Regions from separate parts of the Homo sapiens genome. Here regions 1 and 2 are each linked to region 3. The links come from fine-mapping of genetic effects on gene expression. A gene starts in region 3. Each other region holds a variant in brackets. All regions are shown on one strand. Distances are between the middles of the regions. Region 1 has its middle 38 kb from the start of RPL37A. Region 2 overlaps LINC01280 (long intergenic non-protein coding RNA 1280). Region 3 holds the start of IGFBP2 (insulin like growth factor binding protein 2).

Evidence for each region.
Region 1: its variant is fine-mapped to the expression of IGFBP2 in adrenal gland (GTEx, PIP above 0.99). The same link has a PIP of 0.9 or more in fibroblasts, lung and pituitary.
Region 2: its variant is fine-mapped to the expression of IGFBP2 in whole blood (TOPMed, PIP above 0.99).

Annotation. Positions count from the first base shown.
Region 1 is chr2:216,531,312-216,541,438 of GRCh38, reverse strand. No RefSeq gene overlaps it. Among named protein-coding and RNA genes, the nearest start is that of RPL37A, 38 kb to the right of the region's middle. RefSeq lists an enhancer at 1,540-1,629. The variant G/A (reference allele first, on the strand shown) is at 5,714.
Region 2 is chr2:216,580,263-216,590,389 of GRCh38, reverse strand. LINC01280 (long intergenic non-protein coding RNA 1280) reads left to right here. Exons shown (of 4, transcript NR_110392.1): 4 at 1-397. Among named protein-coding and RNA genes, the nearest start is that of LINC01280, 22 kb to the left of the region's middle. The variant C/T (reference allele first, on the strand shown) is at 5,056.
Region 3 is chr2:216,627,647-216,637,700 of GRCh38, reverse strand. It overlaps IGFBP2 (insulin like growth factor binding protein 2), which reads right to left and starts at 4,281. Exons shown (of 4, transcript NM_000597.3): 1 at 3,736-4,281. The coding sequence starts at 4,177.

The sequences.
Region 1 (10,127 bases), 96 kb after region 3:
CTCCTGGAACTGTTCATGTCCAGGCATTTACTCCAGGGGACTCCTGGTCATTTTCAGGCATAGACACTGCATCTCCACGTCTGTCCTGCTGCTGCCCTTTCTCTTTCATCTGGGGGTCCTCCTGGACTTCTGGGAATGCCATCCCTCCCTGCCCCCATCGTATTCCCCCAAGGCGTCTGTGTCCTCTCACTTTCTTGTCTTCTACCCAAATTCCTAGCTCCCTAAGCCAGGTAAAAAAGCAGTTTAGTTCGACCTACACTGGCACTTTCTCAAAACCTCCCCTGCCTCTGGCACATTCCTTGTGTCTCGGCAGGACCCAGAGAGCTGGAGAATTCCTCTCCCTCCTTAGCGTGGGTCCCCGTGTTGGCATGCCAACAGCCCCAATATTTAAAGCAATCATGAAAATGAGCTCAGAGTCCCATGCCAGAGCCTTGAAAGGAATTAGGCTAAAAACAGGACAAAGGAAGAGGTGAGGCCAAACAGAAAATGCCATGAAAGGCACTGCCCAGCATGGCTGGATCCCAGAGCCCTCCTCTCTGGCTTCACTCACCTATAGCCAGGCACTGTGCTAGGCACTGGGGATGCAAAGTTGAATGAATCATCCCTGCCCTTGAGGAGCTCCCAGGCCAGCTGAGAAAGCTATACAAATGGACAATCACAGTACAGTATGGTAAGCACAGACAAGATGCCACCGAAGGCACAAGGGAGCCATCAAAGCAGAGGGTCCTGGCTGTGCCTGGGGTCCATGACGCATCTCCTAGAGCCTTGATCTAGGCCTTAGGACAGGCATTCACACAGGGACAAGGCAGAAGAGGTGCTTCCAGAGAAATGCAGATGCAAAGGCACAGAAGCATGAAACAGGATGAAGGAGGGAGAGAAAGTGCACAAGTGTGACTGCTTGGTAAACTTGGTAATGATCCAGCCTCTCCATTGGGCATGTTTATGTACATGTAATGTATGGAGAATGAAATTAGACTCAGCCTTATAATTGAAGATTTTTTAAAAATGTTAAACTAGATGGACACATGGATGCTTGTGTGTGCAAGGAAATTACTGGGCAGAATGCCTTTATCAGAAGGTGCCTGGAGTGCATGCCGAGCACGGATGTGTATAGCGAGAGGGTGACATAGCTATGTGCCCACAGCACCTTTCCTGTGATCAGTCCCGGGAGACTCCCTGCTGGAGGGGAGATGAGGTTTCCCCAGTCATTTGAGTGAAGGAAGAGAATCAGCTTGGCAGGCTGGGAGAGCTGGCAGTGCCCCAGACACCTGGCACAATGCAGGGGAAGGTGTCAAGGTCAAAAACGATGCCTGAGTGAGTTGTGACTAAGCGAGCCCCAGGGCTTCCTGGTTACCAAGAGGAGATGGGAGTGGTGGGCAGGCCCAGGGCCTCTCCTGCCACAGTGCTTTCAAATCCTCACAGCAGGCACAGAGAGTAGCTTTGGCTTGAGTCTTGGGGAGCTGGGCAGCCGCACTCAAGCCTCTTTTGGAAAGAAAGAAGTAAAATGAAAGTGACACAAGCAAAATGATCATCAGGTGCTATTAAAAGAAATTCGTTATGACTAAGACATCTGCAAATAATAATGGTGCTCATTTTCATCATCATCACCATCATTATCATCACCATTTTTATTTACTTAAGTGGTTCTAACATTTACTAAGCACTTATGAGCCAGGCTATATTAAACTTCACATGCACTTAACCTTCATAACAATCGGAAGAGATCAGTATTCTTGCTCACATGTTACTGAAGAGGAAATATCCCCTAGGAAGGCTATATTAAGGTTCAGGGTGCCCTAAAACCAGGCAGTGTGTATTTAAAAAGCAGAAAATGTTATGGGCTGAACTGTGTTTTCCCCCAAAAATTCTTATGTTGAAGTTCTAACCTCCAACACTTCAGAATGTGAATGTATTTAGAGATAGGGTCTTTAAAGAGGTGATTAAGTTAAAATGACATCATCAGGGTGGCTTTTAACCCACTATGACTGGTGTCCTTGAAAGAAGAGGGAATTTGGACACAGACATGTATAGAGGAAAAGACCATGTGAAGACACAGGGAGAAGACAGCCATCTATAAGGCAGGGAGGGAGGCCTCAGAAGAAACCAACCCTGCTGACACCTTGATCTCGGACTTCCAGCCTCCAGAACTGTGAGAAAATAAATTTCTGTTGTTCAGCCCCCAGTCCATGGTGCTTTATTATGGCAGCCCTCCCAAATAAATCGAGAGAGCAATGACCCAGGAGTACCTTAGAGAAACTAGGAGAAACAAGGCTGCAGGGACCGCATGGCACCCATGCAGGGGAGCTGACTGCCTGCACGCCTTTGCCTTGCCCTCAGCTGTAGGACACCTGAGGACCCCTTAGCATCCTCAGCTCAGCTCTGAGAGTGATAAGCCCCAGAAGGTTTGGAGTTGTACAACAACAGTGCAATTGATGGTGTCTTCCTTGACAAGATCAGGACTTGAAAGCAATAGGATTAAAAACTGGGGTTTAAAGAGATTAAAACACAAAACCTAAAACAAAGCAAAGCCAGCATAATCTTTCTACTCTATAGACCTTTAACCACCAAACCACTATGAGAAGTAGGGTCAAGGGGGTAGGCCAATATTTCCACCTGGCTTCAGAAGCAAAACCAGTGCCCAATAGGAGTTCACTTTCTCACACGAAATGGGCCAGAGCCCGGAGGATGAACCTCTGGGAGAGGCGTCATTAGGATGGGTCAGTAACTAGGTCAGCAGTCACTGTGTCTGGGTTCTCTTGGATTCCTCGAAGCAAGTTAATTATTAAAGGGAACAGGTGAAAATATAGTCTTGAGGTTTGATTAAACTAAAATTGGTCTAGTCAGAGAGTGGGGTGGGGAAGAGGGTTTCAAGAATTCCAATCGGCCCCCAATGATACTGCAGAGACCCAAGTTGCCTTGGAATCTGCAATCAATGCGGAAATCACCAGAAGTATAGAGGAGTGACGGCTCCGGGCTCCAGTGCAGCAGGGCCTAGAGAACGAGAAAGGCATCCTGAAACTTTAAAAAAGTTGCATCTCTGTGTTGACAGCAGACTTTAAAACAGGTACAGGCCACTAGGGCAAATAGAAGCCTGACCAAAGATGGGGAAAATAAGGAGGACTTTCTGGAGGAGGTGCTCTGGAAACTGGGCTCTGGAGGAGGAAGGAGATAGAGCTCAAAGGACAGAGGAAGGTGCTTTGTCCCATGGAAAGTATGAAAGAGAAACTCCAGTGGCTGGGTGCGGTGGCTCATGCTTGTAATCCCAGCACTTTGGGGGGCAGAGGTGGGTGGATCACCTGAGGTCAGGAGTTCGAGACCAGCCTGGCCAACATGGTGAAAACCCATCTCTACTAAATACACAAAAATTAGCCAGGCGTGGTGGCACTCACCTGTAATCCCAGCTACTCAGGAGGCTAAGGCAGAAGAATCGCTTGAACCTGGGAGGCGGAGGTTGCAGTGAGCCAAGATAACACCACTGTGCTCCAGCCTGGGTGGCAGAGCAAGACTCAGTCTCAAAAAAAAAAAAGAAAGAAAAGAAAGAGAAACTCTAAAGGTTCAGTGGACAGCAGAAAGTTCTCCATGAAGAGTTTAAAGCTAGAAGGGGAGTCCTGGGTAGCACCTAAAAGGCATGTGTGTTTGTGTGTGGGGATGTATGTGTGGTGTGTGTGTGTGTGCATACATGCAGGTATGATGTATGTATGTGTGGTATGTGTGCATGCATGTGTGTGGTGTGTGATGCATGTAATTTTGTATGTGCATGCATGTATATGGTGTGTGGTGTGTGATGTATGGTATGCATGTGGTATATGCTTATGTGTATGCATGTGTGTGCGTGCAGTGTGTGCATGTACAGGTGTGGCATGTGCATATGTGCACACGTGTGGTGCATGTGTGTGGTATGTGTGCACATATGTGATGTGTGGTGTGTGCACTTATGTGCACGCATGTGTGTGGTGCATATGTGGTGTGTGTGTGTGTGTGTGTGTGCTCATGCACACACATCCTGGGACTTTAATGGTAAGGATCATCTGGCCGAATATCTCTGGTGAGGAGAAAGCAGGTGGCCCAGGCCAGAGCTAACAATAGCAGGATTTAGGGAGAACTGGGCAAGTTTGTCAGGGGCCTCCTGAAGCAAACGAGGAGCCACAGTAAAGGGTCTTGAAAGAGGCCTGCTGGATTTTCAATCAGACCTGCAGTGTCAAGTTTCAGCTCAAGTGATATCCAAATGTCTCATATTTCTATTTTATCATTTCCATATTTTCAGTGAGCAGAGCTTACCATCTGCACAATGTTGAGCCAAAGAAATAAAAACCAAGAGGAAATTGCACTACAGTGCGGCATAATCAGTCTGATCCGCCTGGGATGTTAGTGGAGACATGTGTGTCTTCACTCATCTGAGTATTAATGTCCTGACTGTTTCTAAGCAGGAAGTTTCCCATTTGGCCAGGCTGAAAGGCAGCTCCAAAATGGAGCAGCAGTTTTCTGTTCTCCACGAGCTCCCCTCCCCTGCTCCTGAATCACGTCACTCCCCAGTCGCTGCAAATGATTCTCATGTGTTGACAGGTTACACAGTTCAAGACAAGACATCAGCAGGAGTCTGGGTTGCAGCAAGAACCAGATAGCAGAGCAGGGAAGCCATGTGAGCTGGCTATTAGGTGACAGGGGCAGGCAGTGATCTGCCCGCTCTTTCCAGCCTCTCCCTCCTGGGCCCTGCTGATGTGTCTGGTTGTCCTCTGCAGCCTAGTCCATGGCACATCTCAGAAAAGGCATGTCAACTCTTCAATCCTTCATTTCTTCATACGAAAAGCAGGCTCATAACACCTACCTTGTAAGGCAGTAGGGAAGAGTGCTATGTTTCATAGAAAAAGATGCTAACAGAGCATCCAGCACACACTATTACTTAAAACATGCTTCAAACATAACAATAATAGTACACACTTATATCATGCTTACTACATGCCATGAGTGGTTTTAAGCACTTGATATTTTATTTATGTGTGTGTGTGTGCACACATGAACCAATTTAATCCTCACAACCCTGTAAGGCAGATTCTACTGTTATCCCTGTCTTACAGAAGAAGAAACTAAGGCACAGAGAGGTTCTGTAACTTAACCATGGTCACAGAGCTAGTAGAGCCAGGATTCAAACTCAGGCAGTCTGGCTCCAGGGACTAGGTGTAGATAAATAAATGAATTAATTAAAAGTTGATGTGTTGGTGGATGGATGGGCAAAGAACATGGATTCCCATGAACTCCAGTAAGGAGCAAGTTATCTAAGCAGCACATTGACAAGTTAAAGGCTCGAAATTCTAATCCCAGCCCCCATCAAGTCCAGGAACTGCAGTTGTTTAATGTTGCTACAAAGTGGCATCACCTACTCCAAGCTAGAGGTGAAGGCTGCTTCCCTTACTGAGACAGGCTTAGTATGCCATAATTTGGAAGGTTATCACTGGAAAGCACTCAGGTTATCACCTAACTCCTAATTTTATGTTTGCAGGAACTGAGGCAAGAGAGGGAAAGTGACCAGCCTAGGGTCACACAGTGCCTGTTCAGACGCGTGCCACTTCTATGCCCAGCACTGTTTTTATGACATAATTTGGCATCTCCTTCACACTAGGAAAGCAGAATCCGGAAGTTGGGGGAGGAGTTATGGACAGAAAAGCAAGATTGAAGAGTGGAATACACTGCCTGGCAAATTGTTTTAAAATGAGAA[G/A]GTCATACTTTGTTGCAAGGAAGTTCCTGTTTATGTAAGTCTGGTGAAGTCATCAGACCTTTTGCCTCTCCCCCGCCCCTCCCTGAGGCATCCGGAGGTCCACGGAGGGAAAGGACACTGGTACGGAATGCACCCTACACTCCCACGCTGCTTGCTGTTCCCCCAACACGCCTGAGAGCATTCCACATTCCCACTGCAGCATATTTGCTCACGCTGTTCTGGGACTGAATCCTCCCATCCCTACTCCCATCCATGCCTGGAGTAAACCTCCCCAGGCTTCAGGGACAGCTCGAAAGCCCCCTCTGTGACTCTTTCCCAGCCGTCAGAGCCAGGATGGACTTCCTGAGCTCCAGGGGCACTTGAAGCCAGTGGGGAAAGTTCTGGCTCCTGCATCAGCCAGGTCTGGATCTCTGTTCTGATTCTCTGTTCTCTGCTCACTTAAGTGTGACCTTTGGCAAGGACCTTCATGATCTCCCTGTCTCCATTCTCCCACTTATCAAATGGGAATAATAACAGTCCCCTCCTCATGAGGTTATATAATAAGATCAACATATATAAAGAAAGCATTTAGTACAGTGCCTGGTACTTAGTAAATGGGAGACATGATTGCCACTCTTGGAGGTCTTATTCCACATGCTTTTTTGATTTATGGTTGTTTGGATTTGTATCTTATGTCCCCTTCTAGAGAGATACCTATCTTTTGGCAGGAACTGTGTCAAGTTCAACTTTCCAATCCTGCTGCACTCTGAGCCTTGTGCAAAGTTGTGCTTTGTGAGCATGTGTTAAGTTGAAGTGAATTGGAACAAAAAAGATGAGTTAATTGTGGCAAAAAGCAGGGCGTTATAGTTTTTGTAAAAAGCCTATGATGACTGCCTTTATAAATAGACTTCAGAGGTTCTGGGTAGATGTGCAGAGTAGAATATTGCTTTCAGCTCTCATTACTAGTGTTCTTAAGGATGAGGTTGAGAGAAGCAATAATAATAACATCCTCCTATCAAGGACTTCAAATGGTCCATGTTAGGTTCTTTGTAACTTCACTTATTGCCCACTAACAACCTCTAAGGTAGACGTTATTATCCCTATATATGGATAGGAAATTGTCCCTATATATGGATAGATTCAGAGAGATTAAGTCACCCAACAAGGTTGGAGAGCAAGCATAGAGCTGAGGCCGGGTTTGAATCCAAGCCTGTCTGACTCCCAAGGCCATGCTGTACCCTGAACAGGTCTGCAGACCGCCTTCTGCCATCTGACCTAGGGCTTGTTTTGGTATGGCCATCAAGCCAAGGTGGGTTTTTACACTTCTAAATAGTTGAAAAAAATGAAAAGATTAATATTTTGTGACACATGAAAGTTATATGGAATTTAAATTTTAGTGTCCATAAATAAAGTTCTACTGGAACACAGCCACATCTGTTCATCTATACATTATATAATGTATAGTCCTGCCAACTATACATTGGCTGCTATAACAGAAGTGTTGAAATATTTGCAGGAGACACTGCATGCCCCTTAAAGCCTATATTCCCTATCTAATTTTTTCAGAAAAAGTTTGCTAGCCCCTGCTCTAGGTCATACTGACTCTTACAGACAAACTTAATGCAAAGAAAACTGCCCTTTCCATAAAAGTCATGCTACAAAAAGGGCACCCATCTCTGCAGCAATAAATCTTGGTCTCCAGATTCTGACTTGCCTTTATGCGTGCTGAGCCGCCTTGGTTCTTGCTTTCATCCAGCTCGCAATATGATGTGAAATGAGAGCAGCCACCAGACTCTGCCGGGCAGAGACAACAGGCCACAGCAAGCCTGGAAGCAAAGGGAAAGGAATTTAGAGCCAGAAGTCAGCTCAGCTTCATTAATGCCTTCACCCCCTTGATTCAGGGTTTCCTGCCGCATCTTGTTCAGCTGTGAACGTGCCCAGGCCCCAAGCAGGGGCAGGAGGCTGGAAATGATGAAAGCACAGGGGCTTCAGGCTCCCTGATTCTTTATCCAGTCTCCACCCTGACCACTGGGCAGAGGCCTGGCTCAGCATATCTCTCCCTGGGAAGCCTCAGGCAATCCCTCTCCCTGAAGAGTACTCAGTCTGAATGTAGAATGAGCGCTTGGCCCAGCTGTTCCATCGCCCATCTGCCTCACTCACCTGTTTTCCTTCTCCTTCACACTGCACAAACACCTTTTGCCCCTCCATTGTCTCCCTATGGGGTGAGCTTTGTGGCATTCCTTCATCCAGCAAGGGCTTTTGAACACCTGTTGTGTGTCCAGTTTTGTAGAGACACAAAGGAAGTAAAAGTAACCCAGGAGGTTTCTATTTGTTTCAGGATACCAGGTATACACATGGGAAGCCACAGAATGATCCTTGAAGAAATGCTGAGCACCAGTTATGTGCTTGGTATGCTCCAGGTGCCTTCATAACCATGCTTTTGCTTAAGCCATAAAACACACCTGTGGCCCAGGCATCCTTATGCCCATTTTACAGATAAGAAAACTGAGAATCTGAGAGATTGCCTGGAGATCAGATGGCTGTTAAGGGATGGAGCTAGGCTTTCAATTCAGGTCTCACTGGTCCAAAATGCATGCATCTTTGAAAAACTGGGCTGCTCCCTCTACCAGGATGTCATTGGGTGCCTCGGGGTTACAGGATGGGGATTTTAAGACAAATTTCTTAGGGAAAACAATCTTAAGTCCTTACACCGCAGCAGAAAGCACACTGGAACACCAATAAAGAGATTCTAGACACAGCCTGGCCGATCCTATAGTTAAAAAAAAAAAATTCTTCTAGACCCAACTCTTCCTTTAATGAGTTATATGAGTTATATGTCTCTGGGTATGATTTCTTCCCTTCCCTGGGTCTTAGTTTCCACATCTGTAAAACTAGATAGTCTGGACAAAGTGATCTCAAAGCATCGCCCACCTTCACTGCTTCTCTCTGTTCCTGCTGCTTCACAAATACAGTGCTTGGGCACAGGATTCAAAGTTCAGCTCTGGCCGTGAGTCACAAAACTCAATCCAGGTGCTTCCATCTGAATCTTGGAAAGACAAAAAAAAAAAAAAAAAAAAAAGCCCTAATAAAACTGATAGTCTGGCTATCTGGGTTCAAACCACAAAACTAAATTTTAAAAAAATAGAGGCAAAAGATATTATATAGCTGCTATATTCCTTTCTAAATTCCTTCCTGCTTGGTTTTCATGGAACTGTTTCCAAGAATAAATCAGGCTTCTGTTGCATTTGCATTGCTGGAGCCTCCTGAAGCAGGAGATAAGAGGCAGCAATGTCAAAAAGGAAACTGGGTGGTAGGGTGGGAGGTGGTGGCAGAAGGAGGCCTAAAGCTTGAAGGACAGGAAGGATTTAAACAAAGTGAGGACAAATCTTAAAAAACAAACAAACAAAAAGAGTAAAACCCCAAAGGCTTTTGGGGAAACTGTGAGGCGACCAGTTAGTTTTAATAGGAATTATCAGGGAATTAAGGAGAGACTAGAAATATAGGCAATCTTAAATGCTTTCAGCAAATTAAAAATGTGACTTAACATCCCAGTAGCTATAAGTACACTTAGCATCCAGATCTTGGTTTCTAGTAACACTGTCCAATATAAAAAGAACTAGCGTTCTTTGAAGAAATGTCTGATTCTAGTAGGACTGTAGCAAGAAATATACAAAATGAGTTTGGAATATCTTGAAATACCAGAAAATAAAGAAGTGATCAACAACGAATTTTTTAAAAAACCTACAATACAGCTGGGCACGGTGGCACATGCCTGTAATCCCAGCACTTTGGGAGGCCAAGGTGGGAAGACCACTTGAGCCCAGGAGTTCAAGATCTGCTGGGCAACATAGCAAGACCACACTAAATTATGTATAATTCTCCCCCTGCAATTTTCTTTTTTCTTTTTCTTTTCTTTGTTTTTGTTTTTGAGACAGGGTCTCACTCTGTTACCCAGGCTGGAGGGCAGTGACTCAATCTCAGCTCACTGCAACATCTGCCTCCTAAGCTCAAGCAATCTTCCCACCTCAGCCTCCCAAGTAGCTGGTACTATAGGGATGTGCCACCACGCCCGGCTAATTTTTTTGTATTTTGGGTAGAGACAAGGTTTTGTCATGTTGCCCAGGCTGGTCTCAAATTCCTGGTCTCAAGCGATCCATCTTCTTTGGCCTCCCAAAGTGCTGGGATTACAGGCATAAGCCACCATGCCCGGCCCCCAATTTTTTTTTAATTAGCCAGGTGCGGTGGTGCATGCCTGTAGTCCCAGCTACTCAGGAGGCTGAGGAAGGAGGGTTCACTTGAGCACAGGAGTTTGAGGTTGCAGTGAGCTATGATTGTGCCACTGCATTTCAGCCTGGGCAACAGATGTATGCTGTCTTAAAAAACAAAACAAAATGGGCCGGGCGCTGTGGCTCACGCCTATAATCCCAACACTTTG
Region 2 (10,127 bases), 47 kb after region 3:
ACTTAGTTGAGCTTCAGTGTGAATGGAGGTGGGGAGAGTTCCTTCCTTTCTGTTGATGGGATGTAAAACCCTCACTAGCCAACAAGCTCCCCCAGGAAAGACAATGCCACATGCCTTCATTGCCCTGGTGAGTTGTGGGATGTCTGTCCCTCAGCAGGGTCTCAGTTACTGTGTGTTGAATGAATGATGGATCCAATAGAAGAAAAAAGAAGTGAAAAGAATGACTGGATAAAGCCCCATTCCAGCCCATGTTCCCCTGATAACAGTAATAAAATGAAGGACAGACTGGACTGAATTATTACGGTACTTTAACTTTGTTTAACTTTGTGAAAACACTATGTTTAGCTAGGATAATGGGAGTACTTGGACTGGTAATAAACAAATAAATGAGCAAAGCAATAATGTCTTACATTTGAAGTTATTTACAGCTTACAAAGCTATTACACACACATTTTTTCCATAAGAGCCTGTAAACCACCCTGTGGCACAGGCATGACAAATATTACTTTCCCCTTTTGAAGAACAATGAAACTGCAATTTAAATAACTTAAATAACTACAATCACAGTGCTCAGGGTGGCAGAGGACAGATTTAAACCCAGGGCTGAGTCCAAACACTCTTCCCGACCTGTGGTTCTGGCTCTCACGGGGGCCTACACTCTGGAAAAAATAATTCCACTCCTGTGTTCAGCCTGGTCCACTCCTCGCAGAATCTTCTTTTTCAATCTAGGTATCCGGGAATAACATTTGGTCCTGTTTTGTGTGAGTTTTAAATTTTGTGCAAATTATGCAATTAAATTACAAAACATGTAACACAAGCCTTCGTGTCTTCTCCCACAAACAAAAACATCCACTTATCACATCTCTGTGAATATCAGAAATTCCCCCGATTTTCCCTTTGGGCCTTCTCATGTTGTGTCTGGTCATTTACTTGCTCATTTCCCCAGACACTGGGCTTCCTTTTTTGAATTTAAACATTTTGTTATGCCATTTGTTGCTGCACTCACTTCAAATCTCTATTCTATGCTACTTTACCCCAGGGCCCTGGAGTGACTTTCTTTGAAGCTGGTGTCCACTCACTCTTTCTCTCCAGAGCTTTGGCCAGCTAGCCCCAGAAATCTTCCAGTGGCCCATCAGAGAGCAAGCTGGCAGAGCTGTCACTCCCGCCATGGAAGTCAGGTAAGGTCCCCAGGGACTGTTAGTGCACACATCTCATGAGACAGCTTTGCTAACCTGTCACTTTCTACTCTATGGAGATGGACTTTTTCTTTGTCTGTCCTCATTTTCTTTCTTTTTAATTGACTGCCTCATTTCCCAGGGGGATTTTATAACCGTCACACTGCACCATCTTCATTACTCTGCTCTTTTCACGGGTCTCACTAAGGCTTTCTCTTCTGTTGCAGTTGGTGCCTTTACACTTCAGCCCGCCTCCCACCCACTCAGCCTTCTTAGGTTGCTTGCTTCTTCCTGCCCGGTTGGATGTCAGGAGGAACATCAGAGACTCTCCAGTCCCGGGATTCCTAACCTGGAGCCCCTGGGGCCCATCAGTGAGTTTCACAGGCACATAGTGGGGCAGCTATGATGGTTTGAAGTCCCATGTAACATCCCCATTTTTCTGGGGAGAGAATCCATAGATTCCCATTTCCATCCCATTCCCAGACCCTTCATTTTGCAGATGCATAAACAGAGGCCCATAGCAAGTTGCTGGATTGGAGAGGAGAGCTGCCTTTTGGGACATCAGTCCTGTGTGCTTGGCTATATCTCTGTGGATTCCCCTGCCCTGGAGGTTTCCCAAGGGAAGAGAAGGCTTTTCCTTTCTCCTGAGCTTTTCTCTTTGTCTTCTTGCTTTTCCACATGGACACACACAACACACACAGGGACACACACATTAGGCACTTCCTTATACTTGTACTGCATTCAGGGCCGACTACATCATTTGTGAGGCCAAAAGCAAAATGGGACGTGGAGACTGGCAGGGGGCGGGGAAGTGGATCTCCCCTTCCTGTAGATGAGCCACTGCCTCAGCCTGTAGAGGACAGGCTATCTCCCCAGGAGTTGCAACCTTGATGCCAGGGTGCCAGGGTGCCTGGGTGCCAGGTTCCCTGGAATGAGGGTGAATGAGAGGCTCATACTCAGTTGTCCACTGCAAAAGCCACAGCACTGCAACCCTGAGGAGGGACATAACCTTGCCCCATGTGAGATACTGCGGAACGTGCCCAACTCCAGCCCTGTCTGTGGCTGCATCCAGGCCAGGACGACTAATAGTGGAACGTGGCCCATCAACACACTGGGCAGAAGGTAGCCACCACTATGGAGTTGGGGGTGGGGAGGGGGAGGCCAGATTGGGCTGTAGAGAACCCATCCCAGGGAGACAGTCGGGGGTGGGCCGCAGGTGAGACGAGGTGTCAAGCCTCCTGTGCATTATCCCACCAGACTTGAAATACAAACACAGCTAAAGAAAAAGTATTAAGATTCTCAAGGAGGCAATAGCAGAGCATCAGACCCAAGCACTGATCCTTCTGCACTAGCATGTGCCATGAAGCCACTCTGACATGTTTCAAAGCACGACAGCATCCTTGCCTTATGTGCCCCCCTAGGCAGCTCTTTGAAGTCATTAGCTCAGGTGTGCCTTAAGACTCATCTTACAGACAAGACTTCAGACATTACACATCGCCTAGGCACAGGAGTCTCGGATCAGAGAGTTCAAACGTGGGCTCAGCCACTCACATCGCCCCTCTGGGCCTCAGTTTCCTAATTTGCCAAAGGGGACTAATCATCCCTTCTTCAGGGTTGTTGTGTGATTACAACAAATTGCATATAGAATGCCTTCTATAGTGCCAGTGGCAGTCAGAGTGCTCAATAAATGTAGGTATCAGCTTTTCCCAAAATCCCATTCATGAATGCCCTTCACTAATTTTCAGTATTCATATGCCATGTGTACCATTATTGGCTTAATACTTTAAATTTAAATCTACCTAATTTTTACACTTTAATAAATTTACTTTATAGGGTAGCTTTATTCTACTGTCAAAAATGAAAGACAAATATTATTCATCTTAAGTATAAATTAATCATAAAAATAAGTGCATGGGCCAGGCACAGTGGCTCACGCCTATAATCCTAGCACTTTGAAAGACCAAGGCGGTACCGGGTGTAGTGGTTCACACCTGTAATCCCAGCACTTTGGGAGGCCAAGGCAGGTAGATCATCTGAGGTCGGGAGTTTGAGACCAGCCTGACCAACATGGAGAAACCCCGTCTGTACTAAAAATATGAAATTAGCTGGGTGTGGTGGCACATGCCTGTAATCCTAGCTACTCAGGAGGCTGAGGCAAGGGAATCACTTGAACCTGGGAGGCGGAGGTTATGGTGAGCTGAGATCGCCCCATTGCACACTAGCCTGGGCAACAAGAGCGAAACTCCGTCTTAAAAAAAAAGAAAAAGAAAAAGAAAGGTGGGTGGATCAATAATTTAGGCCAGGAGATCAAGACAAACCTGGCCAACTACTAAAAATATAAAAATTAGCCAGGTGTGGTGGCAGGTACATGTAGCCCCAGTGACTCGGAAGGCTGAGGCAAGAGAATTATTTGAATTGGGAGGTGGATGTTACAGTGAGCCAAGATAGCACCACTGCACTCCAGCCTGGGCAACAGAGCAAGACTCTGTCTCAAAAAATAAGTAAACAAATACATAAACACATGGAAAATGACAATGGTATGAAAATCTAGCCAGATAACTTGGCTAGCTTAGAGTCTGTACTTCCTCTTTGTTAAGGAAGGAAATTAGCAAGTGTTTAATACTTAGTCCCCCTGAGACTTAATCTGCAGGGAATAATATGTCCTTATTCAATTCAATGTTTTTTTGTCTGTTTGTTTGTTTGGAGACAGGGTCTCACCCCGTCACCCAGGCTGGAGTGCAGAGGGTGATCATGGCTGACTATAACCTCCAGCTCCTAGGCTCCAGCAATCCTCCCACCTCAGCCTCCTGAGTAGTTGAGACTACAGGCACATGCCACCATACCCGGCTAATTTTTGTGTTTTTGTAGAGGTGTAGTCTCCCTTTGTTGCCTAGGCTGGTCTTGGACTCCTAGCCTCAAGTGATCTTCCCACCTCGGTCTCTCAAAGTGCTGGGATTACAGGCGTGAGCCACCGCGCCTGACCCATTCAATGTTCTTTAATGCCTTACTAGTCATGTACCAGTTAACATCTCTCGTACCATGATTTGCCTGCTAGACTTTGGGAAGTAGCAAACATGAAGTTTGGAAGTGATAGAGTCAAAATTCACAACACATGTATCGTGAATGCAAAAAAATAAAACCCACACAAACTAATACTACATGCTATTCATGGACACATGGATTGAAAGAATTCACATCAGTTCCTTGATAGTGACTGCCTCTGAAGAAAGAGAGAAGAGGAAAGGGCTGAGGGTTGTGTCAAATTTTAACTATCATCGAAATGTTTAATTATTTTATCAAGAAAGTTTGAAACAAATGAAAAAAATTTTTTACAGTTGTTTATTCTGCATAACAAGGACATCTATATTTAATAATCTTTATATGCATTTTTAAAAGAAAATAAAATTTAAATTTTCTTTTAAAAGAATAAATTTTAATATGTAAAAGAAAATAAAGAGAAAGAAGAAAAAGTTTGATCAGGCAAAATGCTCCCAGAAATAGTTGCTGGGAAGAATTCAACATACGCTGATAAGTAAGGGACTGTATCAGTCAGCTTGGGCTGCTGTAACAAACAGCACAGACCAAGGTCAGGAGACTGTTCTATAAACAACAGAAATTAATTTTTACAGTTCTGGAAGCTGAAAGTCCAAGGTCAAGGTATCAGTGGAGTTGTTGTCTTCTGAGGTCTCTCTCCTTGGCTTGTAGATGGTCCTTGGCTTGTAGATACCATCTTCTTCCTGTGTCCTCACAGCTTCTTCCCTCTGTACATTATTTCTGTGTCCCCATTTTCTCTTCTCTTTTTTTTCTGAGATAGAGTCTCACTCTGTTACCAGGCTGGAGCACAATGGTGCAATCTCATCTCACTGCAACCTCCACCTCC[C/T]GGGTTCAAGCAATTCTCCTGCCTCAGACTCATGAGTAACTGGGATTAGAGGAGCACACCACCACACCCAGCTAACTTTTGTATTTTTAGTAGACACGGGGTTTCACCATGTTGGCCAGGCTCCTCATTTCTTCTTCTTATAAAGAAACCAGTCAAATTGGATTAGGGCTCACCTTAATCACCTCTTTAAAGGTTTTTGTCTCTAAGTACAGTGACATTCTAAGGTACTGGGGTTAGGTCTTTAGCATATGAATTTCGGGGGGAGACAAGTCAGCCCATAACCGGGACTTTCACTGGTGCCCCCTGCTGACTTCCCTCTTCATCCAGGAGCCTCTCACCTCTCCTTACTGACTCTGCTGCTCTTCCCTCCTCTTTCCAACATTCAGGCAGGATCTTCTGACTGCTCCACTGCCTGCTCCTTGCTGACCCTTCCTGGCTTCACCCCTGCTTCCTCTAGCCAATCTGCTGAGGACCTCCCTCCTCACCCAGCTCAGCCCTGACTGCTGCCCGAGTCCACTCCCATCTGTGGAGCCTCCACTCAGGAGCCCATGAATCAGCTTCCACCCAAGCTCCACTCTACAGCTCCATGCAGCTCAAACTACCTGCTCATGAACAACAACCAGAAGATGTTCCTCCCGTCTCAGATCAAGCCATCAATGCCCTTTCTCCTCTCTCTGGTCTCACTTCTTGAGATATGTCTGCCACGGGTATGTCTGTGGCATTCCTCTGCCCATGTTCTCTCTGTACCTCTTATCATTTTGAAGTCACAGGTTGTATCAGTCAGCATCCAATTAGGAAAGCAGAAAGCTCTCTAGACACTTACACAGGGGAACTGTAACACAGGGAACTCTTTACGTGGAGAGGGAGAGCTGAGAGGGCGGAGGACGGTGAGGAGCATGAAGGTGGTAGGTCATGCGCACCAGGGCAGCACCCTAGAGAAGGTTCAGCAACCAGACAGAGGGAACCCTGTTCATGGAGCTGCCACGCTGACTCTGACTTGTGTAAGCCCCGGCTGTTAAGTGGAAGAACAATGACCTTCTACTACATCTAAGCCACTGTTACTTGCAGTCTCTGTTAGGGCAGCCAAGCTCATACATAATGAATGCGTCTTTTTTTTTTTTGAGACAGAATCTCACTGTTGGCCAGGCTGGAGTGCAGTGGCACAATCTCAGCTCACTGCAAACTTCACCCCCCGGATTCAAGCAATTCTCCTGCCTCAGTCCCCCAGCTAGCTGGGATTACAAGCACATGCCGGGCTAATTTTTTGTGTTTTTAATAGATGTGGGATTTCACCATGTTGGCCTAGCTGGTCTCAAACTCTTGAGCTAAAGTGATCTGCCAGCCTCAGCCTCCCAAAAGTGCTGGGATTACAGACGTGAGCCACCACGCCCAGCTGCATCATTTTTTATATTGCTTGTTTTGGGGCAATTTGCAAAGACAAATTGCCTTTCCTTCCCATTCAGCTTGGCGACAGAGCCATGGCCATGGCCTTGCCATGTGAAATAGACTTGAGGCATTCATTATATTCAAATGAGTACTGGAGCTACAGTGACCAGCTGTGTCTGTTTGTCAAGGAAAAAGGGGTTTCCTGGGACATAGAATTTTCAGTGCTTACACAGGGAAAGTCCCCGGCAAACTACAGTGGGTTGGTGATCCTACCTGCTCCTTGTGCTTGTAGCAAGCATGTTTCTCAAACAGAAAAGCACCTGTCGGCATCCCTGGCCCTGGCCCTGTCCCCTCCCTCCCCGACACACAAACACACACACACACACATATACACCAGGGTCCAAACCACTGTGCAGGCGGCCACCTTCATCGAGCCTGGTTACCTCCCAGTGTCTCTGTGCTTGAGACACAGTGAGTTTTTCCCTGCCCACTGCTTCATTTCTGAAGAGAGTAAACATCGACTCAGCTGCGGCCTGCCCAGAGTCACCATCCCAGTGCTCTTCCAGCAGCTTTGGCCCTTTGCACCTGAGTCATTCTCCAAGATAAATTACGTTTCTCTGGATCTGAAGCTCACGTCACATTCCTTGCTTCTAGGAACTTGCTTGACCACAAATATGATTCTCTGGTCCCACGGTCTCTGCTGAGCTTCTGTGCTCCTCCTCTCTGCAGGAAAAACTCTGGGTGAGGGCGTCCTTCTTAGCAGAGTATGTCTCTCATCCTGCTTTCAAAGGTGTGCAGCTATTAATACATGGACTGGAAGGAACCGTGGACTGAGCTCTGTCCCCTGTGTTCGGAAACCTGCCTCTGCCTCTGTTCTCTCCATAACATTGGGTGGGTTGTTTCATCCTGCAGAGCCTCAGTTTTGGGGGGCTGAAAAATGGCCCCCCCAAAGGATATCCAAATCCAAATTTCTGGAGCATGCAAATGTTACCTTATTTGGAAAAAAGGTCTCTACGGATATAACTAAGTTAAGGATCTTGAGATAAAAAGATTATCCTGGTGAACCCCAAATGCCATCACAAATGTCCTTGTAAGAGGGAGGTAGAATGAGATTACACAGACAGAAGAGGGAGTCAAAGTGGCCCTTGAGACAGAGATTGGAGTGATGTGGCCACAAGTCAAAGAATGCCAGCAGTCACCAGAGTATGGAAGAAGCAGGACTGATTTTCCCTCAGGGCCTCCCAAGGGAACATGGTCCTGCTGTTATGTGCTGAATTGTGTCACCACCCCGAAAGTAATATGTTGAAGTCCCAACCCCCAGTGCCTCAGAATGTAGGTATATTTGGAGATAAGGTCTTTAAAGAGGTGTGTGAGTTAAAATGAGGCTGCTAGGGTGGGGTCCTGATACAATAGGACTGATGTCCTTATAAAAAGAGGAAGAGACTGGAGGCTGAGGCAGGAGAATCGCTTGAACCCAGGAGGCTGAGGTTGCAGTGAGCCGAGATAGCACCACTGCACTCCAGCCTGGGTGACAGAGCAAGATTCCATCTCAAGAAAAAAAAAAAAAAAAAAAAAAGAAAGAAAGAAAAGGAAGAGACAGCAGGGATGTGTATACACAGAGGAAAGACCATGTGAGGACAAAGAAGTGAGCAAGAGCCCCCTGCAAGTCCAGGAGACAAGCCTCAGGAGAAAAGTCCTGCCAACACCTTGATCTTGGACTTCCAGCCTCAGGAACTGTGAGAAAGTAAATTTCTGTCTTTTAAGCTGCCCAGTCTGTGTTTCTTTGTTATAGCAACCTTAACAAACAGATACACCTGCCAACACCTTGATTTCAGCCCAGCAATACTGATTTCAGACCTCTGGGCTTTAGAACTGCAAGAAAATATATCTCTGTTGTTTGAAGCCCCCCAGTTTGTGGTATTTGTTGCAGCAGCCCCAGGAAGCTAGTACAGGTGGTAGATAGTACCTACCTCACAGGCTTCTTTGAAAGATAGAGGGAGGTCACAGGTAGACCTGCTTGGCTTTGTGTGAGTACCCTCTACATTTTCGTGGCATCTGAATTCTCCTCTCATGGGGATTTTTCTATATGTTTATTTTTCTGCCCAAGTAGAAGCCAAAAAATAAAAATAAAAAATAAAAGCAAGACACACATGCCATGGTGGCATTTTGGGTCATCTTCTCTCCTTTCTTTTTTCGTGCCTGTTTCCTGCCTGAATGTTCCAGCTTCCTTCAATGGGCTCCATCTACCAGGGCTCCAGGTCAGCTAACAGTGAATTATTGACATATCTGCCTCATCACTTAATAGTAACACAATAGCTGACACTTATGGAATACTGATTCTGTGCCATGCCTTATGCTAAGTGCTTTACCTTCCTCTGAGCATCCCTTTAATATGGACTGCTATTATTCCAATTTTACACATAGGGAAATTGAGTCACACAGAGGTTAAAGAGTTTACCCAAAGAAGTGACAGACCTGGAAGACAAACTCAGGTTTTTGATACCCAAACCTACACCCTTACCCACTCTGACACCTTAGGAGGGGAGGGATCCACCTTATCTTAGTTAACTTTAACTCTTCACTGTGTGCTTGGAGCACAGTTTGGACTCAGTGAAGGCTTAATGGATGGACGGATGGATGAATGAGTAAATGGCACTTTGCATAGACCAAAGGAAAGTCAAGAAAATGTTCTTCAGCGCTTTGCTCTGTCCAGCTTCTCTTTAGCTTGACTCTGCTGCTATTGCTACCATGACAGTCCCGATCTATCCACCGTCATGCATGGCCCATACCCACACCACACCCTCTTTGTTCTCTGCCTCTTCTACTCTGGGGCAGGGAGAGTCTGAGTTGAGCAGCAGCACCTGCACACCCTCACCCTCCATCCACTCACCAATGGCCTCATAGCTCCTTGTGAATGGAAGAGACTAGAATTCTTAGGAGCCTAGTGAGAGAAGTCTAGATCCAGTGAGATTATGGAAATTGTGAGGGGCTGTGGACACGCCAGACATTATTGCTATCCCAATTTACAGAAGAGGACTTAGGTCCTCCTTTAACATCTCTAGACTTAGGTCTAGAGATGTTAAAGCCACAGAGAACTTGATGTTAAAAACATTTTTAAAAGAATGTAAAGTTAGTATAATAACTAGAATCTGGGAAAAAAATGTAACAAACTATTTTTTACTTCTCCAGAATAAACTAAGGGCTGATATAGTCAATGTGGGAGGAAGGAAGGGCAGGAGGAAGGAAGGGAGGAAGGAAGGAAGGAAGGAAGGAAGGAGGGAAGGAAAGAAAAGGGAAGGAGAAGGGAAGGGAAGGAAAGGAAAGGGAAGGGAAGGGAGAAAAGAAAAGAAAACTTGATGCTATTTTTGTTTCCCAATCAAGTGCCCTTTTCAACGTACCAAGTCAATAAGAAAGCAATCCAATCTAGAAGAGAGAAGATGGGACTTCAGAGCCTGGTTCCAATTCTTACCAGTTGTGTGTTTTTAGGCAAGTTATGTAAATTCCCTGAGCCTGAGTCCCTTTGCTCATGCAACACAAGAAGACTATCTACCCACCACCTGGCCAGGCTTTCCATCACTGAGAGACTTCTGGGAGAGAGGTTTTGATTTCAGAACTACATACATGAGAAATTGACAAGTTCCAATCTTGTCTGGGCTCACTGTACCTGCCAGTCTCGGCCCTTTGGG
Region 3 (10,054 bases):
TCTCTCCTTCCAGGCTCTACCACCTATTCTAACCTAGAGACTCCTGTGCCCCACTTTTCTCAGATTCCTTAACATTGTTAAGTAGAATTTTTCTGTTCTCGAACCTTCCTCAAATATCTTGTCTAAAGAAGTGGGTCATTACCACCACACAAAGGGACTTATCACAGTAAATGTTTTGGACATATGTGGAAGCTGAGTAGGGAAATTTCAAACAAAGAAGACCCGGATTCTGCAGCTTCCTCAAACTGCAGCCCACCATGGGCAACGGCAGCCCCAGGCGTCAGAAAGAACACCACTTGCCTCACTGGTCCAGAATCTGTCGGGCCACACCCTTCAGAGAGGCCCTGCCTCCGAGGCCAGGGTGCACACTGCCACACCCTGCTTGGTCTCCTAGACAGGCGCTTCCCCATCTCCTTCTTTCATGAACAGTGGTGACTGGTGACTCAGGCAGCGCTGCTTAGCAGAACTAGTGCCGGGAGTTCTGTCCAGATGGGGGGAGGGGAGGTGGAAGGTAGTGGTGTTAACAATCAGTGACAGTAGATCCCACTCATTTCCCTAGTCTATTTTACGACTTTGAACTCAGTATGCAAATTTATGCAAGACGAGATGCAAAGCAGTACTCTGAGCCAGAAGTCCCATTGCTTTTTCCCCCTTTTTTTTTGAAGCTGCACTGAACCACTGTAAATCAGTGCTTGCCTCTTCCCCCCTTTATTCTTCCCCGGCAACTGCAGATGCAGAGCCTCCCCAGGCCCGCCCGCCCGCCCGCCCGCCCGCCTGCCTGCCTGCCTGTCTGCCCGCCCTGGGACTTTGAACGACTACACATTTCTGTAGCACCTTTATACGTGCAGCGGGCCAAACGGCCACTCGGGCGGCCCCGCCCCTCAGCATAATCCCCTGCATTGTACACGGTAGGGAAGGAGGCTGGGGAGATACTGAAGGAACCGGTCTAGCCCAGCCTTAATTCTGAAAGGGCCTGGACTGGCCCAACCCTGTTCCCTCCTCGACCCTGACATTTCTAGGCACTTCTATCCACTCCACCACCAAACACATACACACGCTTTTAGAGTCCCAACTTCAAGCAGATCTCAGGGTCTCCTTTCGGTTTTTCTTCTAGGCCTACCCACCCCTTCCCCCAAGACTGACTTCTCAGTTTCTTTGAACCAACAAGCCCCAGCCCATCGTCCCCGTGGGATACAGGCTCACCACCACCCACTCCTTCCACCCACTGATGTGCCCACCCCCACCCCTGCATCCTTGCCATCCCCAGGAAGCCAGCAGCAACACAGCCCCTGAGTCCCGGGAACAAAGACAAAAGAGCTAACAGCAAAGCCGGAACTGCTGAGGTTCGCTGCCTCGAAATAAGAGGGTATGTTTAAAATTCTCAAAAGCAACCTGCTCAAAGAGGAATGCAGGCTGGAGGGGGGGTGCTCATTCTTCGGAGAGGAGAGAAGACGGGACGGGAGATGGAGTGGGAGGCAGAGGATTCAGTGCTAAGATCTCCGTCTGGGCCAGGCCCCACCCAACTCGGACCCAGCACTCTCCATCCAGTGACTCCAGTCTCTGCCCCAGCCTAAGACCCTCTCCCACACAAAAGCCTCCAACCTTGACCCCTTTTTCTCCTGCACCCTTGCAAGCTCAGGCTCCTTCCCAAAGTGCTCCCCTCCCCCAGCCCGACTCTTTCTCAGGCACCCCTGACATTGGTCACTTCTTTTGAGTGCACCCACTCAGCTTCCAGCCCCACCCCCCACCTTCCACCCCTGCTTAACATCCCCTCTTCCCAGGCCGGTGCACAAAAATGCGGAAGGCGTCTGGGCACTGGGGAGGAGAACGCAGCTGGGGCAAGCTGGCGGAAGGGAGTCCCATAACCAGGCAGAAAATCCAGAGTGACATTCTTCCCATGAACTCACCCCATTGTCCCTGGCCTCCCCTGACAACTACCCCCCACCCCCTTCAGGCTCCAGGGAAAAGTGAATGGGAGAAAATCTGCCGCATCTGTTCCTGGCTAAAGACCCTAACCGGCTTCAGGGATTTGGGAAGTAGAATTGGTTTTCAGGCTTAGAATAAGACGAATGAAGAGTAGGAAAAAAAAAAAAGTAAAACGTTAAAGAAGGAAAGGCATCACACACTTTATTAAAACAGTCAGCAGCCAAACCATCCTATGAACTTAGAGGCCTTTCAAAAAGTTCACCCTGCTGAGGAAGATGTTTAGTTTGTCAGAGTTCAGCTCAGAAACTGCACAGCACCTCCCCGGTGGACCACGAGGGGTGATGAGGAGGAACGCATGACTGGGGGACAGGCACCCCGCAGTGAAAGGATTTCGTGGGGGCTTTTTCCTTTTATTGTTACTTTCTAAGAGAAGCAGGAGGGAAGGGTTAACTTCCAGGCAGGCTAGGGAAGGAAGCGAGCCGAGGGAGAAGAAAGGGACTGAGAGGCTCCACTCAGAGGAAGCCCTAACTTGCTCTGTACTCCAGAGCAAAATGTGCTAGAGAAACAGAAGAAAGATTTCAACTCTGACCCCTAATTCCATTCTCAAGGAGAACAGGGAAAAAAACAATAGCCGACCAGGAGAAGGGAGGCGGGTTGGTGCATGGGGTGGGGGGCTTACGAAGACCTCAGAAGCTAAAAAGCAAGCATTCTTCTTTTCACTTTTTCTTTTTAAGTTTGAGAAACTTAAGACTCACTTGCTTTTTCAACAACAGCAGCAGGCAGTGGACACATTTCACCACTGTCTCCAAGAGGAAAGAAAATAATTACAGCTTCCTCCCGACCACTGGGGCAGGAGGCTTTCGTAATTAAAAAAAAAAAAAAGTAACCTCCTTAGAGCCTGGTTGTGTCCCTCAAATAACTTTTTGGGAGGGATGAGGGCCCCTGAACAAAGAATATCGGGTCCTCATTCTATCCTACAGGAAAGGGTCCCTCAATTTAAGATAGGGGCGGGGGTGGGGGGTGGCAACGCATCTCTCCTGCCTTTCGATCTGGGGCCCAGATGCGAAACCGCACAGCCTGGCTGCCCCCGTCCAGGGAATGCAGCCGGCGATCGGGCTTAAGTTACATTGATTCAGCTGCTAGGAGACCCCTCGCCTACCAAATGCCTCCCTTTTATTTTTCCATTCAACGTGGTAGCAAGAGCCCTGCTCGTTCCCTATGGAGAAATAGTAGTGGTGGTTTTCATTTTTCTCCTAAGCGACTCATCCTACAAAGTACCAAGTCCTTTCTTTCCAACTCACAACCCCAGTAGAAGGAAGGGCCCCTTGGGACGCCGGTGCCTCCTCCTAGCTCCCTCTCCTCTTCCAAGGTTCCTGGTGTCACTGGCACCCCGCAGCCTCCGCCTCCCAGCAGCGATCCCACCAGGACCCTTGGGTCCTCAAGCAGTGCCCCAAATAAGATTCGAGTTCCTACTCCCATGGATCTGACCACCGGCCCCCTTCTCAGCAAATCCCTCCTCCAGAATAGAAGTCTGGGTCCGTTCCACGCGGGTAAAACTATGGCAGCAGGGATGCCTTTCCTCTCCCCATTCATCCCCACCAAATGAGTCGCCAGGGCTCTTCCACTTGCTCTAACTCCAGTTCCCCTCCCCGGGCCTGACTTCCGCGTCCCGCTAGCAACAGTCCCCCTTGATTTGGTCCAAGGTCTCGGCTCTGCCGCCCCTAAAACCGTCCGTAAGGTCCAGCCGCCCGTCGGGCTTCTCCGCTGCCCTCCAAGTTTCTCCCAACTACTTGTTCCAGACCGCGTTACCTGCAACCTGCTCCGGGCTGGCGCCATACTCGGCGTCCCGGCGCTTCTCACAAGTGCCCTCGCCCATGACCAGCGCCTGCAGGGGCAGCTCGGAGCCCGGGTGGGGATAGCAGCGCAGCCCCTGGCCGCAGCGCGGGGTGTAGACGCCGCACGCCTCGCCCTCCAGCCGGGCGCACACCGAGCAGCAGCCGCAGCCCGGCTCCCGGACGAGCTCCGCGCATGGCATGCGGGCGCCTCCGGCCACTGCGGCCACCGCGGCGGGCGGCGCAACCGGCGGGGGCCCGCAGGCGGCCAGGCGCTCGGGTGTGCAGGGCGGGCAGCGGAACAGCACCTCCGCGCGCGCCCCGCCGCCGCCGCCACTCGCGCCCAGTAGCAGCAGCAGCAGCGGCAGCAGCGGCGGCGGCGGCAGCGGCAGCGCGGGGCAGCCCACTCTCGGCAGCATGCTGGCGGTCGGCAGCGCGGCGCGGCGGGCGAGCGAGCGAGCGGGCGGGCGGGCAGGTGGCACGGCCCTGCGAGCGCGGGAGCCGCCTCCTCCGCTTCTTCCTCCTCCCTCGCCGCCGCAGCCGGGTCCTAAAGGGCCGGCTTCTCCCCGCCCCCTGCCTTCTCCCCTCCCCCTTTTGGAGACCACTCCCTTCCCCCCCGACACTCCCTCGCGCCGGCAAGTGAGTGCGCGCACGCCCGCTCGCCCACCTCCGCGTTGGCTGCGGGCTCTGGGGGTTCCCTGCTCTTCCCGGGCCCCGTCCCTCCGCACTCTTCTGGCCTGACTATGACTCCTGAAGGAGAATACGGATAACTCGCGGGTTTGGGTAGGACCGGCGTGGCGGTGGAGAAGAGCGCGTGCTTTTGTCTGCTCTCAGTTCAGTTCGCGAGGACTTCGTTTGCGCGCTTCCCCTGTGGCCGGCACTGGGCTAACCGCTGGGGAACACAAAAGACATAAGGCTCCGTTTTGACCTTCAAGTAGATTTCAGTCGGCTCATACCAACTCCTTCCATCCTGGGGTATCACCCACCACTGACACGTGGCTTGGAACAATGACTTCTTGTTGGGTGGGTCCTGCGGAGTTTCAGACCCGTCTAGACCAAGCTAGACCCAAACAGCCCCGAATGGTCTTAGTGACTATTGCAGTTTTCCAAACCTGGGAGCTCGTGACTACAACCTATGAGAACCCTAAGTGCCCCGCAAAACCTGCCCCCTTCGTCTGCAGACCCCCTCCCTTCTCCGCCCGCTAAAATAATCCCTTAGCACCCTGGGCCCCCACCTACAAATCTCGAGGCACTTGTTGCAGGACAGATCCCAGAACACTCAGTTGCAGGGGTCTTGGAGAGGTCAGATCAGCTCTCCAGGTGTGACAGACCCGCTCTGGGGTAAGGCCATTTATGGCTGTCTTCAATAATGCAGATGGACAAGCATGACCTCCTTTCATTGTTCTGTTTGATTTACTGAGTCATCTACCCAAGCTGCCCCCAACCCCCATCATTCCAGGCTGGACTCAGCCATAATCAACCATCTCCTGGGGTGTGACCCTAACAAAGACCCCTGTCAGAGAGATTCCTTGGGTGACAGGTGGACCATTAAGCTGCCTCCACCGCAGGTTTCATCTCCCTATACCTCAGCGCCCCTCTTCCCCCCAGACCCCTCCACTCTGGCTCTTTCTGACTTCAAGGCTCAGAGCCTGTTTGATTCAGTTCAACAGCTAGTTAACCCAATGGCCACCTGGCTCTGAAGGTGACCTAGATGCCTCCAGGAAGGCAAGTACCTGGTCTTAAGACGCCAAGCTGGGAAGAGTTATCGGGAAAGACTTTGGTAAGATAAAAAATAAATAAATAAATGTTTATCAGAGGCTTTGAAGAAAAGAAATATTTTGGTAGAGAGGTGATGTGGTGGTTGAGGAAAGGGGAGTTTCTTGGGTGAGTCGGAGCTGAAATTGAAGCTTGTAATTCTACCAGAGGAAATGGGCGGTTAGCAAGGGCACAGGCAGAGGGACCACCTGAAGCAAAAACACAGAAATGGGGCCGGGCGCGGTGGCTCACACCTGTAATTCCAGCACTTTGGGAGGCCGAGGCAGGTGGATCACCTGAGATCAGGAGTTCAAGACCAGCCTGGCCAACCGTGGCCAACATGGTGAAATCCCATCTCTACTAAAAATACAAAAAATAGCCAGGCACGGTGATGCACGCCTGTAGTCCCAGCAACTTGGGAGGCTGAGGCAGGAGAATCGCTTGAACCCAGGAGGTGGAAGTTGCAGTGAGCCAAGATCGCACCACTGCACTCCAGCCTGGGTGACAGAGTAAGAATCAGTCTCAAAACACACACACACACACACACACACACACACAGAGAGAGAGAGAGAGAGAGAGAGAGAGAGAGAGAGAGAGAGAAATGGGAAAATGAGTTTGGGGATCAGAAAGTCCACTTCAGCCAGAGTGCAGGATGCTTGCAGAGAGCAGCAGGGGAGGCAGGAAATCCAGTTGACTGTGGCGCTTTGGCTTAATATGCTGGGCAGTAAGGATACAGCATCCATGTTTGAGCAGAGGAAGAGATGGACAGAGCTGGACTTCTGGAAATCATTAGCACTATGTAGAGTGCCGATCTGAAAAAAAAGTAAAAAAAAAAAAAAATCGTTAGCACTATGTAGGGTGCCGATCTGAAAAAAAAAAAAAAAAGAAGTAAAAAGCACTATGTACAGTGCCAATCTAAAAAAAATAAAAATAAGACACAGGAAGGATCATGGTCATTCCACCTTCATTCTCCCTGGTGTCTCCTGCCTGCTTTGTAACGTGTTTCTGTTGGTCCCACCCACTGAGCTCCTACAGAGTAGGCACAGGGTCTAGCACAACGCTGTCCAATAGAAATCTACTGCAAATCGCAAACGTGAGCACATGTGCAATTGTAAATTTCTAGTAGCCATATTAAAATATAGTAAAAAGAAATAGATGACATTTATTTTAATAATATTCTTAATTTGGCGGTATATCCAAAATACTATCATTTCAATGGGTAATCAACACTAAAATTAATGAGAGAGTTAACATTCCTTTTCTTATACTAAATCCTCAAGTTCTGATGTGTATGCTATACAGCACATTTCAGTTTGAAGTAGCCAAAATTCAAATGTTTGATAGCCATGTGTGGCTAGGTAGCTATCAAATTGGACAGCCCACAGGTCTAAATACTGCCTGGCACCAGGTAAGCACTCAATAAATATTTGTTGAGTGAATGAAAAGTACAGTCTCTCAAAATATTCCTGGCAGGGCCCCTCATTCTCTTTCTGTCTTAATTGCAATGCCCAGGAGCTGGGAATGAAAGGCTGTGATGAGTCTATTAAGAGGCTAAGAGTGGCATTGATTCATTCATTCCCATGCAGCTACTCACTTATCTTTTGGGATTCATTCTCTTTCCACCTCCTTTTAAAGTTCTTGATCTTTCAGCCAAGAGCAGTGGAGATGAGCAGGCAAAGTGATGCTGACTTGACAAATGCAAAGTACTCAATGATATTTCACTTTCTAATGAGCCTGAAGGCCACACCCAATTCTTTTCTCCTAGTTCCCAGGTTAATGGCCAATTTTACCCTTCCCCACCCTAAATACACGCAAACACATAACAAAATAATCCCATATTTTTAAGGCTTTTCCTAACCTCTCCTGAGCCTCACTCAGAATCCCACTCCCCAAAGGCCAGCTGCTACAGAGGCTTGAATCACAGAGCATCCTCAATCCATTGAAGCCTAGAGAAGTAGGGGGACTCAGCCCAGAACCCAGAGCTGGTTACTGGCTGGCCTACAACTTAACCATTTTGCTTATTACTGTAGGCCCAGGGCTAGAACGGTGCCTGCACAGAGATACTCAAAGAATATTTGTTGAGTGAATCCAGGTTCTCCGCTTGTTGTCTCTGGCTTTGCCCATCCCATTGTTCCTGGAGCATTCTTCACTTTAGATTTCTCATGAGTCCTCTGCAAAGGTATGTCCTCAGGCTTGAGAGCCTGTCTGTGCCCAGCAGTGAGGATTGGTTGAGAGATGGGGACAGGCTAAGACTGGTTTTCTCCCTTCCCCTTAATCCCTGCCTTTTTCCATCTCAACCACGTTTTATAAACCCCACCCTTACATGGTTTACCGTAACTAGGTACCACCTGTACTATTATTTACATAATTTTTTTAAAGTAAGGCAATTCACTCTTTTTTTTTTTTGCTTACGATCATTTTTAAAAGAAATTGTATATCACTACCATAAATGGAAATGTAGTATTGATGGCCATCTATAGATGGTAACCATAAAACACAATGAAAACAAGACAATGTTATTTGATTCGAGCTGGATACTGTTGCCTGCTGAAGCTTCTGAAGCTGGCACACTCTTCCCAAGTTAAGAAAGATGAGACAATTTAGAAGAAGCATTCAAGTTAAGTCAAACCCAAGCTGAGATTTTCTCCACTAAGTCATCAGGAGAGGAATGTTTTTTAAAAATATTTTATTGAAATATACATGCAAAAAAAAGTAGATAAACCAGATAAATATCCACAAATTGACCGCACCGTATAACCAGCTCCCAGATCAAGAAGAACATTGGCCAGGCACAGTGGCTTACGCCTGTAATCTCAACACTTTGGGTGGCTGATGCAAGAAGATCACTGGAGCCCAAGAGTTCAAGACCAGCCTAGGCAATATGGTGAAACCCCGTCTCTACAAAAAATAAAAAAATAAGCCAGGTGTTGCGCATGCCTGTAGTCGCATGCCTGTAGTCGCAGCTACTCAGGAGGCTGAGGTGGGAAAATCATTTGAGCCCAGGAGGTAGAGGCTGCAGTGAGCTGTAATTATGCCACTGCACTCCAGCCTGGATGACAGAGTGAAATGCTGTGTAAATAAATAAATAATAAAGAAAAGAACGTTGACAGCATATGGAAAACCTTTCATGCCCCTACTGGTTATTATCCCCATGCTCTGCAAGGGTAAACATTGTCCTGACTTCTGCTGGCGTGGATGAGTTTTCACATAAATGAAAACTTACAATAAGCAGTTGTTTTTGTTTTTTTGTTTTTTGGAGACAGAGTCTCGCTCTGTTGCCCAGGCTGTAGTGCAATGGTGTGATCTCAACTCCCTGTAACCTCCACCTCCCAGGCTCAAGCGATTCTCCTGCCTGAGCTTCCAGAGTAGCTAGGATTACAAGTGTCCACCATCATGCCTGGCTAATTGTTGTATTTTTCGTATGGAACCAAAAAACAGTGCAAATAGACAAAGCAATCCTAAGCAAAAAGAACAGAGTCAGAGGCATCACATTACCTGACTTCAAACTATACTATAAGGCTACAGGAACAAAAACAGCATGACATTGGTACAAAAACAGACACATAGACCAATGGAACAGAATAGAGAACCCAGACATAATGTTACAAAGTTGAGAAAATAAGCAATGGGGAAAGTACCTAGTCAATAAATAGTGCTGGGATAGCTTGCTAGCCATATGCAGAAGAAAGAAACTGGACCCCTACCTCTCACCATATACAAAACTGAACTCAAGATGGATTAAAGATTTAAGTGTAAGACCTCAAACTATAAGAATTATAGAAGAAAACCTAGGAAACACCATTCTGGACATCATCCTTGGGAAAGAATTTGTGACTAAGGCCTCAAAAGCAATAGCAACAAAAACAAAAATTGACAAGTGGGACCTAATTAAACTAAAAAGCTTGTGCACAGCAAAATAATCTATCAGCAGAGTAACAGACAACCTACAGAATGGGAGAAAATATTTGCAAACTATGCATCTGATAAAAGTTTAATATCCAGAAACAATTCAACAAGGAAAAAAGCAAATAACCCCATTAAAAAGTGGGCAAAGCCACTTCTCAAAAGAAGACAGACAAGTGGCCAATAAACATATGAAAAAATGCTTAACAACACTAATCATCAGAGAAATGCAAATCAAAACCATAATGAGATACCATCTCACACTAGTCAGAATAGCTATTATTAAAAAGTCAAAAAACAACAGATGTTGGCAGGGCTGCAGAGGAAAGGGAACGCTTATACACTGTTGGTGGGAATGTAAATTAGTTCAGCTACTGTAGAAAGCAGTTTGGAGATTTCACAGGGTACTCAGAACTATCACATTACTCGGTATATAGCTAAAAGAAAATAAATTATCTTACTAAAAAAGACACATGTGCTCATATGTTCACTGCAGCACTATTCACCATAGCAAAGACATGGAGTCAACCTAGGTGCCCATCAATGGTGGACTGAATAAATAAAATGTGGTATATATACACCATGGAATACTACACAGCCATAAAATAAAGGATGAAATGATGTCCTTTGCAGCAACA